2 separate regions of the Homo sapiens genome follow, and region 2 is linked to region 1. The links come from fine-mapping of genetic effects on gene expression. Tissue or cell type: whole blood. Region 1 holds a variant in brackets; the other region holds the start of a gene. All regions are shown on one strand. Distances are between the middles of the regions.

Region 1 (8,179 bases):
CCTAAGGAACCTCAGCTTTTCTGAGCCTTGATTTTCTCATCTGTAAAGTGGAGGCGCCGGGCTACACCGATTCCTTCCATTTCAGACATCAGTTTGTGCTTTAAATGGACACAATAGCTAAAGCCCTGAGAGCAGATGCAAACTCTGGGAAAGCGTAGAGACAAAATGTGCAGACACAGACCCTGCTTTCGGTTATTTTCTCACCAAGAGATGAAGGAAGAAATGGCAGCAGTAAAGTAGACAAAGGGAAGCCAGAGAGGAGAGAGAAGGGCAAACAGGTACGCTGCAGCTGAATAGGAGGGTTTGCCATCAGGCAGGAGCTGCCATCAGTCAGGGCCCAAAAGGCACGAGTTCATTATATCTTGATTCCCCAACTGTAAGCTCCTTAGGGGCTTATATCTCTTGTTTTTCTCAAGGATACCAAGAAGTAGAGTAGATCCATAAATAACTGTCTCTTTGAAATAACCTCTCACCATTTCCAAAAGCTAAACAAAGTTTCTCAGATCCTGGTCCGTTGCTTCTCCTTTAATTCTTTCTCTTCCCTTGGGCTCGGCATACCCGGGGCAGGCAGAACCTTACCTCCTCTTCTGGAGCTCCATGTCAAGCACTAGGGAAAGTTTTGTGGAAAGTTTGCCTGGGTTTGGAGGGGGCTCTGGGTGTGTAAAATCTCCAGGTTCTCTCCCCTCCCTTGGGTGGGCATTGCTTTGCTGCTCCTGGCTCATGCCTAGACACCCTGCCTCGTTTGGGTTTGCATGCTTCAGGCTGTGTCTCTCCCACTCAGATCAAGACCAAAGATGCCAATCTCATTGGCTCTCCAATAAGACCCTTTGGAAGTCTGTATGGTTCTGCATGGACCCGCCTTCCCCACCAGGCCTCCACATGGGCACTCAGCTGGCACTTACACACTACAGCCTATATGCTGGGGGCTTCCCAGGACCCCTCTTTCAGGAGAGGCTCCAGACACCCACTCCTTCTGGTCAGGAGTCCTCTGGAGGCCCATTAATATATCCATGAACTCAGCTCGCTGTCCATATATTGGAAGACCAGATGTTGCCTGCACTTCTCTCTGTACAGGGATTAACTCCATGCCATTCATACTATTAGGGAGAAATAAGGTTTTTCTGGTAAGGAAAAGAGAGGTGATAGTGACAGAATTTTAGAATGGGGACATGATGGCAGGCTTGTCTGGGCAAATCCATGAAACCAGATTACTGCCAACATTTTCCACTGCCTGGTCCTGTGCAGACACTAATCATCAAGACACACGCAGAGGCCTTTGCAGTGTCTGATGTTCTGGGTTTCTGCTCAGGCCCAAAGGGGTAGAGACGTGAGTGGGCAAGCACAAAAGAGGGGAGGGCTGCTGTGGGGGTGGCGGTGGGCCAAGGAGGAGTTGGCAGGGGCAGTATAGTAGACTATCATACTGAATGTGAGGAAAAGGGGATCCTCCCTCCTCCCATGTCCCAGGGAGTTCATGTCACCCACTAGAAAGGCCAGGGAACGTGAGGATCCTTCCCCACCACTCGGAGTGTGAATACAATGGGCAGCCTCTTCGGTGTGGCATTGCCAAGACAGCAGAGAACTATCTGGGGCCTTGTTAATACCCAGTTTCAGAGGCCCTCATCCTGCTCTCTCTGGGGACAGAGGCATGGACACAGACTGCCATGTGTGGTACTGAGCCCAGATACAGCCAGAGCAGGAAGGTTGGGCAGGGGGCCCTTGCCCTGCCTATACCCAGGATCCCTGCACTCAGGCAGTGGGCAGTGAAGGGTAAATGGAGGAGGTGGGCTGAGGACTTGCCATCCGCATAGTACAGGAGTCCCCAGCCTCCCTGGGGACGAGATCTTGGCAGTGTGGGAAGGCTGGGGGACAGAGAGCTTGGCCTCCTGGGGGCTGTTTAAGGGAAGACACCTGGCGGGAGCCACCAAGAGAGTGAATCTGCCTGGAAGGAAGGAGGGGAGCCAGTAAGGAAGCACAAAATGCGAGCACCCGTCCTGCTGCCAGTCTCTAATGCTGCTGGAAGGCATGGCAGGGCGCCTGCACAGCGTTTTACAGCTCCACACCCTTGGGATTTGATCTCTTATTCACCAGCCACCCTCCTCTAGTTTCCACCTCTGCTTCTCTTCTTCCCTAGACCAGCAGCCAGGAGATCAAGCTCAGCTGGGTCCCAGGAGCCCTCCGCATCTTCCGAACCCTTGCTCTTGCAGGAGCTTTCTAGACTCCCTCACCCACCTAACAGCCTTGTTGCCTGGCATCCTGGCCCTTCTTGGGGACACCTGCTTTCCAAACAGCAAAACAAGGAGCATCATACTAGAGCAGGTTGGCTGTTTACATTACCTTGGGAAAGCAGACTTTGCCTTTGTCCTAAAACCCAAACGATCGTCTGTCAAGGGGTGAGCAGGCTCCCCCTGGTTCCTCTGAGAGCTAGAGGAAAGAGCACTGCCAGGCAAGGGAGGGGCAGGACTGGGGTGAGACCTGATGATGAGGTTGGGAGACGCCAGTTTATGTTTCCTCACTGGTGTTTCAGCAGCAGCGCATGGCACTCAGCTCTTTGCCTGGCATTGATGGGGAGCAGCAGGCCCTGCCAGAGATGACCAGGGTCCCTTCAAAGGACCAGGGGGCACAGCTCCTCATCACTCTCCCCAGGCTGATGGAAGGAAAGAGGACTGAGAAGGAAGCTTCTGAGGCCAGGTTCAAGGCAGACCTGCCCTGCTCTACCCTGGTGGAAAACCCAGGCTTTCCAACACTGGGCTGTTGGGCCCTCTGCCTGTCCCCTGAGTCTTTTCTTTGCCTTCTGTCCTCATATAAAAAGTGACTACAGTATCCCAAGAGAAAACATTGAGAGGGATCTTCTGTTTAGGAAGAAAAGCTGAGTAATGTAATTAAAAGTAATAGCCAAAACCACAATAATTTTTGCACCAACCTAATATCACAATTAATTATCCTTGCATGGTGCCTTGTAACAAGCAAAGGCCGCCTGTGTACTGGTTAAGGACATGGATTTGTCCAACACACCTGGGTTGAATCCCAGCCCCACCACTTATTGGCCTCTTGGCCTTGGAAATGTTACCTACCCTTTTGTGGCCTCCATTTCCTCATCTGTAAAGTGGTGGTAACAGTAGAGTTGACCTTTTAACAACCGAATGGTTAGGGGGCATGACCCCTCTTGCAGTTGAAAATTCAATATAACTTTTGACTACCTAAAAACTTGACTACTATTAGCCTACTGCTCACCAGAGGCCTTATTGATAACATAAGCAGTCAACATATATTTTGTTTGTTTTATATATATGTTATTGCTGTATTCTCACAATAAAGTAAGCTAGAGAAAAGAAAATGTTGTTAAGAAAATCATAAGGAGAGAAAACACGTTTACAGTACTGTACTGTATCTATCAATACCATAAGCTTACATCATGTGTTTGCAAGATGAATTATCTATC[A/C]TGTCAGAAATGGCAGGCAACTGCAGCTGCAGACCTCAATCTACGGTACATATCAAGCAATTCAGCTTTTTTTTTTGTAATGTCATGGTTTTTCTCTGCTTCTTGGGAGCACTTCCAGCATCACTAGTGCCACTCTGCATGGGTCCCATGGTGTTATTCAAGGTTTACTGTAAAGCACTAAACATGATGAAAAATATGCGAGAACCTCCAGAGATCACTTTTTACTGCTATAAGCAATTTACTGGGGGAGCTAATTGCTCTTGTGGAGATGACTAGCATCACACAGTGTTTTAATGGCAATACCTGAGATCACTGAAGTAGCAACAGGAGGTGGCTACAAAATGATTACAGTAGCACATATGTATCACAGTTAATTTTAAGCAGTTATGATTTAATAATGCACCTTTACAGTTGCTTACATTTCTCTTGACTTTGGCACTATGTAGAGTCCGTGTGTGCACACATTTTGATAAATTTTAACTTTTCATAACAGATTTGTGTATATTTTATGGGAGTAAGTGATAAAATAGACTAGTATCTACATATATTTTATGCATTTATGACATGCCTAACTTTTTTTTAATTTTTTTATGTTTCTAGGATACAAGTTCATCTTCAAGTTTTTTCAAATTGTCACAAATCTCCAAAAATTTTTCCAACATATTTACTGAAAAAGAATTCACATATAAGTGGAGTGGTGCAGTTCAAATCTGGGTTGTTCACAGGTCAACAGTAGTACTTCAGAGTTGCTGTGAAATAAGTGATTTATGTGACACAGCACAATTTCTAGCACAAAGCAAATATTTCTCCTTTCGCATTATCTGTAGAAGTTATAGTAAGTGTCTAGAACTTCCAACATTACGTCGATTTTATGTTATTGCCACAATCTCCTAGCCTGCATCTTGCCACCTGATCATGCACCTCTTTCCTTAGCTTACAAGCCCACCCTAACCCTATGCCCTGGAGCTCCCCCGCTGTCTCCGGTCCTGCTCCCAACTGGTGGTCCGCTGCTCCCTGCTCAGGCACTAAGTGGCCATTCATTACAAGGCCAGTGGCCATGGATTTAGGATATAAGCCCTCCCTTCATGAATGGGTATTTCTTTTAAAAGAATGAAGCATAGGACCCCACTTTGGCCCCCAAGGAAGCAGTCCTTCCTGCGTACCCAGGCTGCACCGCTGCTCGTTGGCCCCATCCCACTCCCACCCTTGGGTGCCTTCTCAAGGAAGAGCAGCAGTGCTGATGATCGCTCCCTTCATGTATTACTTCAGGTCCCTGTTGCATGTGTCATTTCACTTTGACACTCTCCCTCTGAAGTAATTAGGGCAAATGTTATCTCATTTCACACATGACCAAACTGAGCCTCTGAGAGAGTGAAGAGACCTGCCTGAGATCACAAGACGAGTGGTGATAAGGCTTGGCCCAACGTACTCAGAAACCACATCCTTCTGGGAGCCCCACTTCTGCCCTCCCCACCCTCATTCACCTAATTCCCTGTTCCCAATGCAAAGATTGAGTGAGAGTGCTCTGCCCTCCTACAGGTTCTCCACCCTACTCTGGTATCTGTGCTAACAGCTCAAAGACATGGTAGAAACCATTGTGGCTGACATCTTCATTTCTAAGATGAAGACACTGAGTTCAGAGCTTGTCAAGGCCTCATGAATAAAGGGTAACAGAGCAGGAGCCCAGCCCCGCAGCTCCTCCACCTCGCCACACCAGCCTGACAGCACTGAATTTCAGAGCCAGAAAAGGCCTCAGGTAGACCAAAGTCAGGGGCTTAATAAATACTGCAGTCAACGCTCAATTACCCATAATAATGGAAAATAGGAAGCAAATAGGAGTTGTGTCCTTTACAACTTCTAAATCTGTCATTGCCACACTTCCCCCAGGGCTGTTAAGGCATCAGACCAACTGCTCCTCCTATTCACATCCCTGCAGATGGCCAGGAAAGGAGCTAATAGGGTGGTTACAGGGGCAAGATGGTCCAATCCTTGTTTTATCAGACTCCTAGTAACCACAGCTTGATGACTGTCCTGCTATAGGACAGACTGCATTTGCCCAGGTCCTGCCAGCTGTGCACCCCTCCATGGTGCCACATGGCAGGTCAGAAGTGCCAATGAGGTGGCATGAGGCTCCTGCCACACCACCTTTCCTCAAAGCCTTATGTCTTCATCATGGAAACCTTGTTTATCCATTACCAAGCCAAGAGAGAGGATTACTGAGAAGAAGGCAGCCAAAAACAGGGCACTCCCTTTGGAACCCAGCGGGGTTTCTCCGATCCCAAGCACACCTTAGTAGTTAGCACAGTGTGAATGAAGACAACCAAATGTTCATCTGTGAATGCTAATAATGAATGGTTACAACTACAGGATCAGCTTGTTCTTCCTTCAGGGACATGGAGGCAGATATCATGTTCTCCATTTGCCTAAAATGCTCTTCCAGCTCCACCAGGTGTAGAACAGAAGGAAATCAACTGTGCTGGCATTAGCAGAAACTTAAGACTGATAACAAGAGGGACTAACCAACTACTCCATTGCATACAGAGTAGGAATGTGGAGGGTAGGAATGTCTGGGTTGTTGGGTCTGGAAAGCTAAGCTAAGAACCTGCCTTGCCACACACTTTCCCACTGTCCATATAATTGAGGTTAATTAAGGACCTAGAGCTAGGGAAGGGGCAAGATGGCCTCACCTCAGACCTTGTCTCATGCACACCTCTGCATGCAGACAGGTGACTACAAGCCAAGATGGAGCTTGCCTCACGGGATCTTCTTCCCAAACAAGAGTTCCCTTGCATTGGAACTGGTAACATCCCCAGGGATCCCACCTACTTCACCCAAATTACCATCAACCCACCCTCCAAGACCCAACTCAACTCAGATGTTCTCTCCCCTTGACTGATGACCCTGGTGTGATGTGGCCCCCTCCTTCCTGTATTCCTCCAGTGCTTACTCTGTCCAGTTCATTGACCAACAAAAACTCACTAATCACTGCAGTAGAATACACATTCTGCTGCATCCTCAGGATGAAAAGGTAAAGAAGACACAGTCCTTGTCCTCAAGAAATTCATTATTCCATAGGCACTCATTTCTGTGGAGTAAATATACCTACCATGGTTGATCTCAAGCAATCAACACGGTGTTACTGAACATGGAGTTAGGAACAAAAGCAGGCAATTGGCTTTCATAAGCTGGTGCGGGAGGGTTCCAGGACACCGCTGGACATCATATGCCAGAAGCAAGGAAACATAAATGGAAAAGTGAGGCAGGAGTCAAGGAAGGAGGAACTATGAACTGGCTTTTAAAGGATGAATTCGAGTCTACACACAGAAAAGGGAGAAAGGAACTCCAGGAAAATGGAGAGACATTTGCAAAGACCTAACAGCATAAACATGTGTAAAAGTTTGGTGTATTTGGAGAATGACAGTACCCTCTCCCCTAAGCCTGACCCAGATGAGAAACTGGTTGACACTCAACCTCTAACAGATGCCCATGACAGGTGTCCTGTGCACGTTCTCAGCCGGGACTCTGATGGCCCTGCCACCTGCCTCCAGCCTGCCTCCATCCAGCTCACCCCAACAGGGCCCGGCCTCTGTCCCATGCAACCTCAGGAGAATCTTCTCTATGTCTGTAGGTGTCTGGGCAAAGGACAGCTGTCTTGAGGAGAAATCATACCAAACAAGGTTTTAAACTAAGGTCAGATGTCCTCATGCATGTTTAATCATCCTGTTCTATATTTGGTGACCTTAAGGACAGGTCTTAAAGAGATGACACCCAGTCTTCTATCCCAAAGGCCACTCGTCCCAAGGGCATAGCTGGCAGCACCTGTCTATGGCTGTGGCTGAATTTCGACGGCCCTTTGCTCATCTCCCTAGTAAAAAGTAAGGCACTTGCTGAAGTCAAGAATCCCAGGGCATCCCTAGAAAGACCTCAGAGGCGAGGCCATCCTGACTTAGCTTTCCCTGTCCAGTTCTCCTAGGACCTACTGTTGTGACATCCACTTTCGCCCCATCAGAAATTCTCCACTGGTGAAGCATGTGATAGACTATATTCCCACCCCACCCAGGGACCCCACTTAGGAGAACTGCTACCCCCTGAGGTCTTTCCTAAGAGATTGGGCCCTAAATCCTCCCAGTCCCTATCCGCTCACCTTGCTAGTTACTTGTCTCGCTAGGTAGGTATGGTCACCAAGGGCCCTCCCTGGCCCAGGATTGGTCAGACATAGCTACTCCTGATGGCCAGTTGAACTCAGCCTGCCAGAGACAGCTCCATTATAACCCCTTTACCGAAGGAAATATGGTCTAGGCAGGTGAAAAGACACCCAGTAGAGCCAATAAATGCACATTTCAGACCTTTGAATGTGCTTTTCTAGGACAACATTCCTCACCCAAGGGGCCCAAAATGAAGGACCCCATGTGTTGTTTTGTTGCGGGATTCTTAACCCATTTTGTCGGAAATAATCAGAAATAAATAAGGCATGCCCCCCACCCACTCACCCATTTAGGACAACACAAATCATTGGAACAGACATACTTGCAGCTACCTATATTATGTTATTAATGCCAGGACACAGGCAGGCAAAATGGGATGGGAACACAAAAGAATGTTTTTTTCCCCACGGGAGAGAGAAGGAGTCACAGAAGTTCTGGCATTTAGCTGGACCTTGAAGAAAATGTTAATGATCAATATTAAAATACATGCTAATAATTATACTTACTTTCTGGTTACAGCTGCATTCATTCATCT
Region 2 (8,179 bases), 41 kb after region 1:
CAAAGTGTGCGGCTTGTCCTTGGCATGGTAATGACCAGCCTCCACCTTTCCTCAGCCAGGTAGACACTGTGGAGCCTCTGCTCCAGTGCCCTGATAGCAGCAGTGATGCTGCCTCCAGACTTTGCTCGGCCGCATGCAGGCGCACACGCCCAAAAACACACACCCTCCAGAATCCTGCTTCCTCCTCTGGGCACCATGTAAAGGGGCAAACCCACTGCTTTGTGTGGTCAGAACGGAACCCTGAAGACACTCCCCTACCACGTGACACTAGTGAGGGTCCTCCAAATCCCCCGGCCCTTGAGACTCCGCCCCTCTGAGGGGCCAACCCTGGTTAGCTCCCTTTGGATTCTGACTCTAGGCTGGAAAATGTTTGCAGACAACACAACCTCCCATGGCTCATTTTTGCTCACCTTATCAAAGCAAGAGATTAGGCAAGCAGCTCTCCCAGGCTTGTCAGCACAGCTCACAACACCGTGAGAAATTCCTGCCACTCTCTATTTTTACTCTGTGGTGGCACTCCCAGGGAGTGAAGAAATCAATTCAGGACTCATTCACTGCACTCAGTGGCAGTGGCATTGTGGGGACCAAAAGAAAGAATCCTGTGGTCCCATGGAGAGTCTCCACATAAAACAATGAGGGAGCAGTGACACAACTCTGGGTGCTCTGGCTTTAGCCCAGGTACCCATCCGCAATATCCAGGAGCTCATAGAAGACACTGTGGTTCTCATCAGGCCACCCAAACTGCAAAGGCAGAGTCTGGATGCAGGGAGTGCCTTAACCACTAGAACAATCAGTAAAAGCCACTGTGTTTTTCCCCAGGTTCCCCAAAACACTCCTGGTCTGTGTCCCACCAGCAAAACTCAAGGGCAGCTCAGCTAGCACCGATGGAATGAGGCATGCTGCTGAGCAACCTTCTCGCCCACCCTCTGCTTCAGTGCTCCTCCCCTGCACAGGGACCTCCCAGTGCCCTCAGCACCCCAGGTCTCCTCAACTCTTTGCCCAGCAAACTCCTGCTCATCCTTTAGACCTCAGCTGAGGTGGCATCCCACCAGTGTGTCCCCTTTGCAGCCCCTTGTTCCTTGCCTTTCTAGATCTGTTGAGACTTGCAGTCATGTGACAGTGTGTGAGCATCTCTCTCCCGGGCTGCACTGGACCCCATGAGGGCAGGCCTATGTCTACTTTGTTCTCCAGGGGACACAGTGGACCCATGGACACACAATGCCCAACACGGAGAAGACAAAAAGTGTCATGCACTCATGAAGTGCAAAAGGTTTTAGAACTGCCTGCTGGTGTGGGCTATCCAGGCCACTCACCACTCTTAGCATAGAGGTCCAAGGGTCAGCTGATCAAGGCCAGGCCAGTGTCCCAGGGGTAAGAGCTGAAACCCTCCTTTCCTTTCTGAGGCCCTGTCCCCTTGTCATTGGTTCTAGAAAGCCTTTGGCTCCATTTCCACTCTCTGAGCGTCCAGCACTGACCCCTGAGGGGCTGACCCAATTTGTCATCCGGTTTCTATTTATTGAGCAATTCTCATATGTCAGGCACTATTCTGGGTGCTAGGGATTTGGTAATAAAAAAAACAGGCAAAATCCCTGCTTTCCAGGAGTTTGCATTCTATTTAGAGAGATTACTATAAAGAAATAATCATGTAAAAAATACAGTGCCTCAGATGGCTGCAGGGACTATGGAGTCACACAGGGCCGGGGCATAGGAACACTGAAGTGGTGGTCAGGGAAGGCCCCACTGAAACTGTGGCATCTGAGCAAAGACCCACAGAAGGTGAGGGAGGAAGGTGGGCCTCTCTCTCGGGGGAAGAGTTCCATGCAGAGGGAATGGTAGGTGCAAAGACCTTGAGACAGAACTGAGCCTTGGATGCTGGTGAGCAAGAAGAGAGCAGGAGAGGAGGCAGAGGGGCACAGGAGGCTGCAGACAACAATGAGTTGGAAGCCTGGGGGCTGTTTTCCAGGCCTCACTCTGCTTACTAGCCATTGTATCCCGAAAGCTGTTCCACCCAGTGAGGGCAACGTGGCCTGATTCCACAAATGCAAGTGTGGGCTTAGCAGCAGCTGCGGGTTGAAGGGCAAGTAATATAGGGCCTTGTAGGACTTGGGCTTTTCTTTCAGTCGAGACAAGAAGCCACTGGAGGATTCAAATGGAGGAGTGTCGTGACATGCTTTTAAAGGATGGCTCTGCTGTGGTGTCAAGTATAGGCTATACAGGGTCAAGGGTGAAAGCAGGAAGACCAGTTTGGAAAGCAGAGTCAGAAGTCACCTGTCATAGAAGCCTTCTTCCTTCCAGCCAGGCCACAGCCCACCTGGCTGAGAAGCCTCTCCTCATAGTCATCATAGGCCATGCCCTTCGAAGGACAGGAGGCCCAGGTCTCTTGCACCCTAGCCTCTGCCCACTGCCCTATGCCATGCAACTGGACAGACCCTGTTCATGGCAGGGGCCATAATCAGATGAGCCTCAGGAGGTCAGTTGCCAGCGGCCTGTGGTCATTTCCCAGCCCTTTCTCCTCCCTGCTCCTCTCTTGGCCCAGCCGTGACCTCCGAGTAGTGACTCCTTGCTCCAGTGAAACCCTCTAACCCCTGCCTTTGCCTGAAGCGTGGTGATACTCAGCCAAATTTCCCACGCAGCATGATCGGAAGCCACGGGAGCACGCTGCTGTGTTGCGCTCCTCTTCGGCAGCCTCTGGGCCTCAGCACTCTCACCCTCCTCCGCCCGCTCACACACTGTCCCATCCCCAGCATCTGCTCAGATATCAGAGGCCTGCCCTGCCACCCAGTATGGCCTCTAGCCACAGCTACCCTGCAGTCAGGCCACAGGTCAAGCTCTGGCCTCAGCACTGAACTCCCGTGGGGACTGAGGGAAAGTCACTGAGTGTGCAAGCGGCCTTGGTGCTCTGTGGGGCTTCCCACTGCATCCCTGAAGGCAAAGTTCCTCCTGGGGAGGTGCTAGTGGCCGCTGTGCCTCGACCTCCAGACAAAAGGAGATGCTGGAGGGAGGTCTTCACCATGGCGAGTTCTCCAGCCTCTGCTGCTGCTTTGGACCTAATCTGAAGTTTCAACAGGGAACTAGGGACAGGGGCTTCTGTGTCTCCATCTGGCCCATCCTTGGCCCTTGATGAGCCAAAAGGGGAAACTCAGACAGAACCCTACATTGCATGCTATTGACTTTAGCCCCAAGAGATACCCACCACCAGGGCATTCACCATGCCCTGCCTGCTTCTCCTGCCCTGGCTCTGTGGCTTCATCTCCACTTCTCTCCTCCACCCCTTGGTATCCCATTTTCTCCAGGAATTGTAACTGTTTGAAATTCCCTAAACGCGTCACGCTTTCATGCCTCCTGGTCCTTCTGCCTGAAAATCCCCTCTGCCCTGAGAACCCATTTAACTCGTGCTCACTTCGGCAGCACATATACTAAAATTAGAACCCATTTAACTTTTCATCCGCCTTCCAGACTCAGCAAGCAGAGCTCATGACACCCTCCTTTGAGCTACCATGGCCCAGAGAGTACTACCCCTATTGACACACTTCACATACACTGTAGTAATTCTCTCCCCTTTAGACGTGGGCTCCTTGATGGCAGGACCTGTGTCCTAGTCACCTGTAGCACCTGGCACGATGTCTGGCCTATCATAGATTCTTAGAAAATATTTGTGGGCTAGATGGGTGGATGGATGCATGAGTGGATAGTTGAATGGATTGATGGATGAGTGAATGAACAGATGAACACGTGTGTGTGTGTGCATGTGTGTGTGTGTGTGTATAAATGGATTGTGTGGATGGGTGGGTGGATGGATGGATGGACGGAAGGGTGGATAGTTGGGTGGATTGATGAATAAGTGAATGGATGGATGTGTGTGTGTGTGTGTGTGTGTGTGTTTGTGTGTGTGTGTATAAATGGATTGTGTGGATGGGGATGGATAGATGGGTGCATGGGTGGATGGGTGGATGGAAAGTGAATAATTATGAATGAGAATGAGGGTACTACACCATGTATCTGTTGAGTATTTTAACACTGCTTATCTCCTTTCCTGCCAAAAGGAAAAGATGGAATTAAATCCCTGCAAGAAGACAAATTGAAGCCCAAATGGGTAAATGATTTTCTAAGGTCCCAGGTCAAGCTGAAACAGCACGATGTGGTGAGAGGTGGTAAGGTGTAATCTCTCTCAGTCATTTGGTCAGTGACCAATGACCCTCCCTGCCCCTGAGGTGCTCACCTTGTCAATGAAGGAGGCAAACTTGTTGTTGAGAACCATAATCTGCTCCCGCTCCTGGGTCTTGATCCTCTGAATTTCAGGGTCCACCTCCAGGTGAAGTGGCTCTAGGAGGCTCTGGTTAATGGTCACCTCTTGGATGCCCCCAGGAGGACAATAAGGACCAAAGCCCCCAAGCCCAAAATTGCTAGTCCCAAATCCAGCACCCCCAAAACCACCTCCTCCAAAGCCACCAGCCCCGGTGCTGCCAACCCCAAAGCCTCTGCCCCCTCCAAATCCCCCTACTCCCCCACCCTGGCAGAAACCACTGGTGCTCCTCCCCATTAGATTAATGGAGATGCTTCTACTGCCACCCAGATTGTAGAGGCTCCTAGAGCCAAACCCCCTTCCATGGATCCCATATCCACCACCACCACACCTCCCTCGAGCATAACACACAGAACCCACTGCCGGACTCCCACCACCAGAGCCTGCAGAAGAGCTGGTACTATAAACCCGCCTGCTCATTGAACTAAACGCGGACTGAGAACTAAATTGGTGGCTCATGTTTGCTGGAGCATCCAGAGAAGCAGGCAAGAGAAAGAGCCTGGCAGGAAGGAGGCAGAGACCAGAGAGGAAAGGAGCTCTGACTCCTTTGAAAAGATCTGGCTCCGGCTCTATATATATACACACACACACACATTACTGGGCTGGGCACCTTTACAATCCTGAAAGGGGAGTATTAATGTTTAGTTTGCCTGCCAGCAACATCTGTTTAAAACCTCACACCTGTGAGTTGCAGAAATCAGATTGCAGACAAACTTCCCCAACTCGATCATTTATCATTCATCTCTTGCCATTTAGAGATCAGAATGCAAGAATCTCTCAGGATCTCATTGCTGGAAACTTCTATACAGATTCTCCCCAAATCATCAGTTCATCTCTTCCTAAGAAACTCCACCATCGAGTTGTTTGTTTCTGGGATGTGCCTGGGAGATCTGGGGCAAAGTTAGATGGTGTTTAGAGACCTCAGGACCATAGCTGGGACAGAGGTGGAAACACTTTCTGTCACAGCATCGTCCTGGTGGGGCAAAAGTTTTGTTCCAATCTCCCCACACACTGCTTCTGCTCCCTGCAGTTATCATCACCATGAGCACCCAAAATTTTATCACATGGAAGTGCAATATTGTGGTCACTGAGTACAAGTGGAGGCCCACAGATTCTGCCCAAGGTCATTCACATTGTGTGCTGCTTGATAAGCCTCAGACTTCTCAAACACAAAACCACACAAGGTACTTCAGCACCAAAAGTCTGTGGTTATAGATTTGTTGAGCATCTACCAGTACCTAATATTGTCTTCTAGACCAGAAGACAAACCATCCCTAACTATCTCTCTTTCTGTTTTATCATTTCCGGTTCTTTATAGACAATACTTTTGTAAAATAGAATTAAAGGAATTACCTCCTAAAGATAATTTTTTAAAAAAGATATACAAAATGCAAGCCCAAATTTTTTTTATTTTTAGATTCAGCAAACAAAACATTGTTTAACTGCTAAAAATAGCAACAATAATAATAATTTTCTAAATGGTTACTCTCAAATTCTGTGCTTACCACAAGGCAATAGCAAAGCACGGTAGACCAGCACTAATCTGTGCTCACCCTCTGAGAAGCACGTCCCAGACAGCATCCTGGGGAAAAGCTCATTCAGTGAGCATCAGTGTCCGCCAACAAAAAAATGTGCGTTTTCCCTCTGGACTCAAATAGCTGTGGCTTTCATCCAAAATGTAATAATAATTTTTTTAACTTGGGGAAAAACTCTCCAGCCTTAGAAAAATGGCTAAGCGATGGCTTGCCCAATTGGATACAATTATTTTAAATCATCTTGTTGGAGACTCTGCAGCAGAACCGGCAACCACTTGTGATACTATGTACCATATTAAAGGGAAAGGGCAGACTACATGATGGAGTCTGCGCTGTGAACTCATAAGAATTAAGAATGCAGAAGGCCGGGTGCAATAGCTCACTCCTGTAATCCCAGCACTGTGGGAGGCCAAGGCAAGCAGATCACTTGAGCCCAGGAGTTCAAAACCAGCCTGGCCAATATGGCGAAACCCCATCTCTACTGAAAATACAAAAAATTAACCAGGTGTGGTAGCACACTCCTGTAGTCCCAGCTCCCACGGGTCAGGGGGGCTGAGGTAGGAGGATCACTTGAGCCTGGGAGGTCAAGGCTGCAGTGAGCCCTTATCGTGCCACTGCACTCCAGCCTGGGCAAGAGAATGAGACCCTCTCTCAAAAAAAAAAAAAAAAATGCAGATAAGACAGACTTTGTGAGTAACTAGAAAGTGAGTTGATTTATTTAGAGACTGTGGGAGGAGTTTTCCTAGGTTCTTTTGTTTGTTTGCTTATTTTTTTGAGACAGAGTCTTGCACTGTTGCCCTGGCTGGAGTGCAGTGGCACAATCTTGGCTCGCTGCAACCTCTGCCTCCTGGGTTCAAGCGATTCTCCTGTCTCAGCCTCCTGAGTAACTGGGATTGCAGGTGCCTACCACCACGCCTGGCTAATTTTTTGTATTTTTAATAAAGACAGGGTTTCACCATATTGGCCAGCCTGGTCTAGAACTCCTGACCTCAGGTGATCCACCTGCCTCAGCCTCCCAAAGTGCTGGGATTACAGGCGTGAGCTACTGTGCCCGGCTGAATTTTCCTGGTGTTTTAAATGTCCTTTTTCTTTATGTTCATTGCAATAAATATTTTTTGCTCACGCCTTTAATCCCAGCACTTTTGGAAGCCAAGGCAGGCGGATCACCTGAGGTTAGGAGTTCGAGACCAGCCTGACCAACATGGAGAATGCCATCTCTACTAAAAATACAAAAAATTAGCCGGGCATGGTGGCACATCTGTAATCCCAGCCACTTGGGAGGCTGAGGCAGTAGAATCACTTGAACCCAAGAGGCAGAGGTTGTGGTGAGCCGAGATTGCACCATTGCACTCTAGCCTGGGCAACAAGAGTGAAACTCCACCTCAAAAAAAAAAAGAAAGTTGTGGCAGAAATCCCAATAGAGGTGGGGAAGAACAGGTGGTAGAAACAAGAGCACTGTGGGGGCGCCGCAGTGAAAAGTCATCCTGGTACAGGGAAATGCTCCAAGGGCAATTCCAAGCTTCCACACCCTCTTCTCATGAACCTCTGCATTCCGTACATGGTATCTGTTCAGTGGGTCATCCAGGAGACACTGTGTGATAGAGGAGACAATGAGCCTGAAATTTATAGGCAGAAGCTCTGCTGCTTGCTGGTTGTGTCTAGAGCCTCAGACACTTAAGGAACCTAGAGCCTCTCAGACACTTAAGGAACCAAAGTGTCTATTTCTCAAGGATTCAAAGCTATATATAAGTCATGTGGGGAGAAAAAAGCAGAGCACTGGAATCACTAAACAAGCAGAAATAGCTGCTCACAGATCCTGGTGGGATGACAGCTGTCCTGCTTTGCCTAGGATTTTCAGTACTTAAACCAAGATATACCTGGGCAAATCAGAACAGTTGGTCACCCTAGTCCTAGGCACCTATGGTCCACACAGCCATACTCCTAACCCTAAGGTAAGAGAGGGAAGCCAGGGCCTAGCCTCCAGCACAGAGTGACAAGGAGAGAACCAGTAGAAGCAGAGGAAGGAAAGAGAGGTGAAGCTAGGGAAAGGGGTGGGTTCATGTGAGAAAGCTGCCTGAAGACCAGGATTCTGAGTCAGATATCAGAGGAGAGGCAGAAAGAACAGAGCAGGGGGAAGAAGTAGGGGTCTGGCTGAGAAAATGGGGGCTGATAGGAGAAGGGACAGTAAGTACCAGACAGGAAACAGCAGTGGTGTGGCGAACAGATCCTTGAGTTGGGCATCTTGAAACCCAGCTCTGACTCCTGGCTCCGCCCCCTCCTAGCCCCATGGCTGGGACACTTGACTCCTTGAACCTCAGTTTCCTGACCTCTAAAATAAAGA

The links. PIP is the estimated chance that this variant, and not a neighbour inherited with it, causes the effect.
Region 2: it holds the start of KRT77, and the variant in region 1 is fine-mapped to the expression of KRT77 in whole blood (INTERVAL, PIP above 0.99).

What each region holds. Positions count from the first base shown.
Region 1 is chr12:52,657,670-52,665,848 of GRCh38, forward strand. No RefSeq gene overlaps it. Among named protein-coding and RNA genes, the nearest start is that of KRT2, 9.5 kb to the left of the region's middle. The variant A/C (reference allele first, on the strand shown) is at 3,440.
Region 2 is chr12:52,698,673-52,706,851 of GRCh38, forward strand. KRT77 (keratin 77) reads right to left here and starts at 4,852. Exons shown (of 9, transcript NM_175078.3): 1 at 4,220-4,852. The coding sequence starts at 4,762. RefSeq lists an enhancer at 2,925-3,094.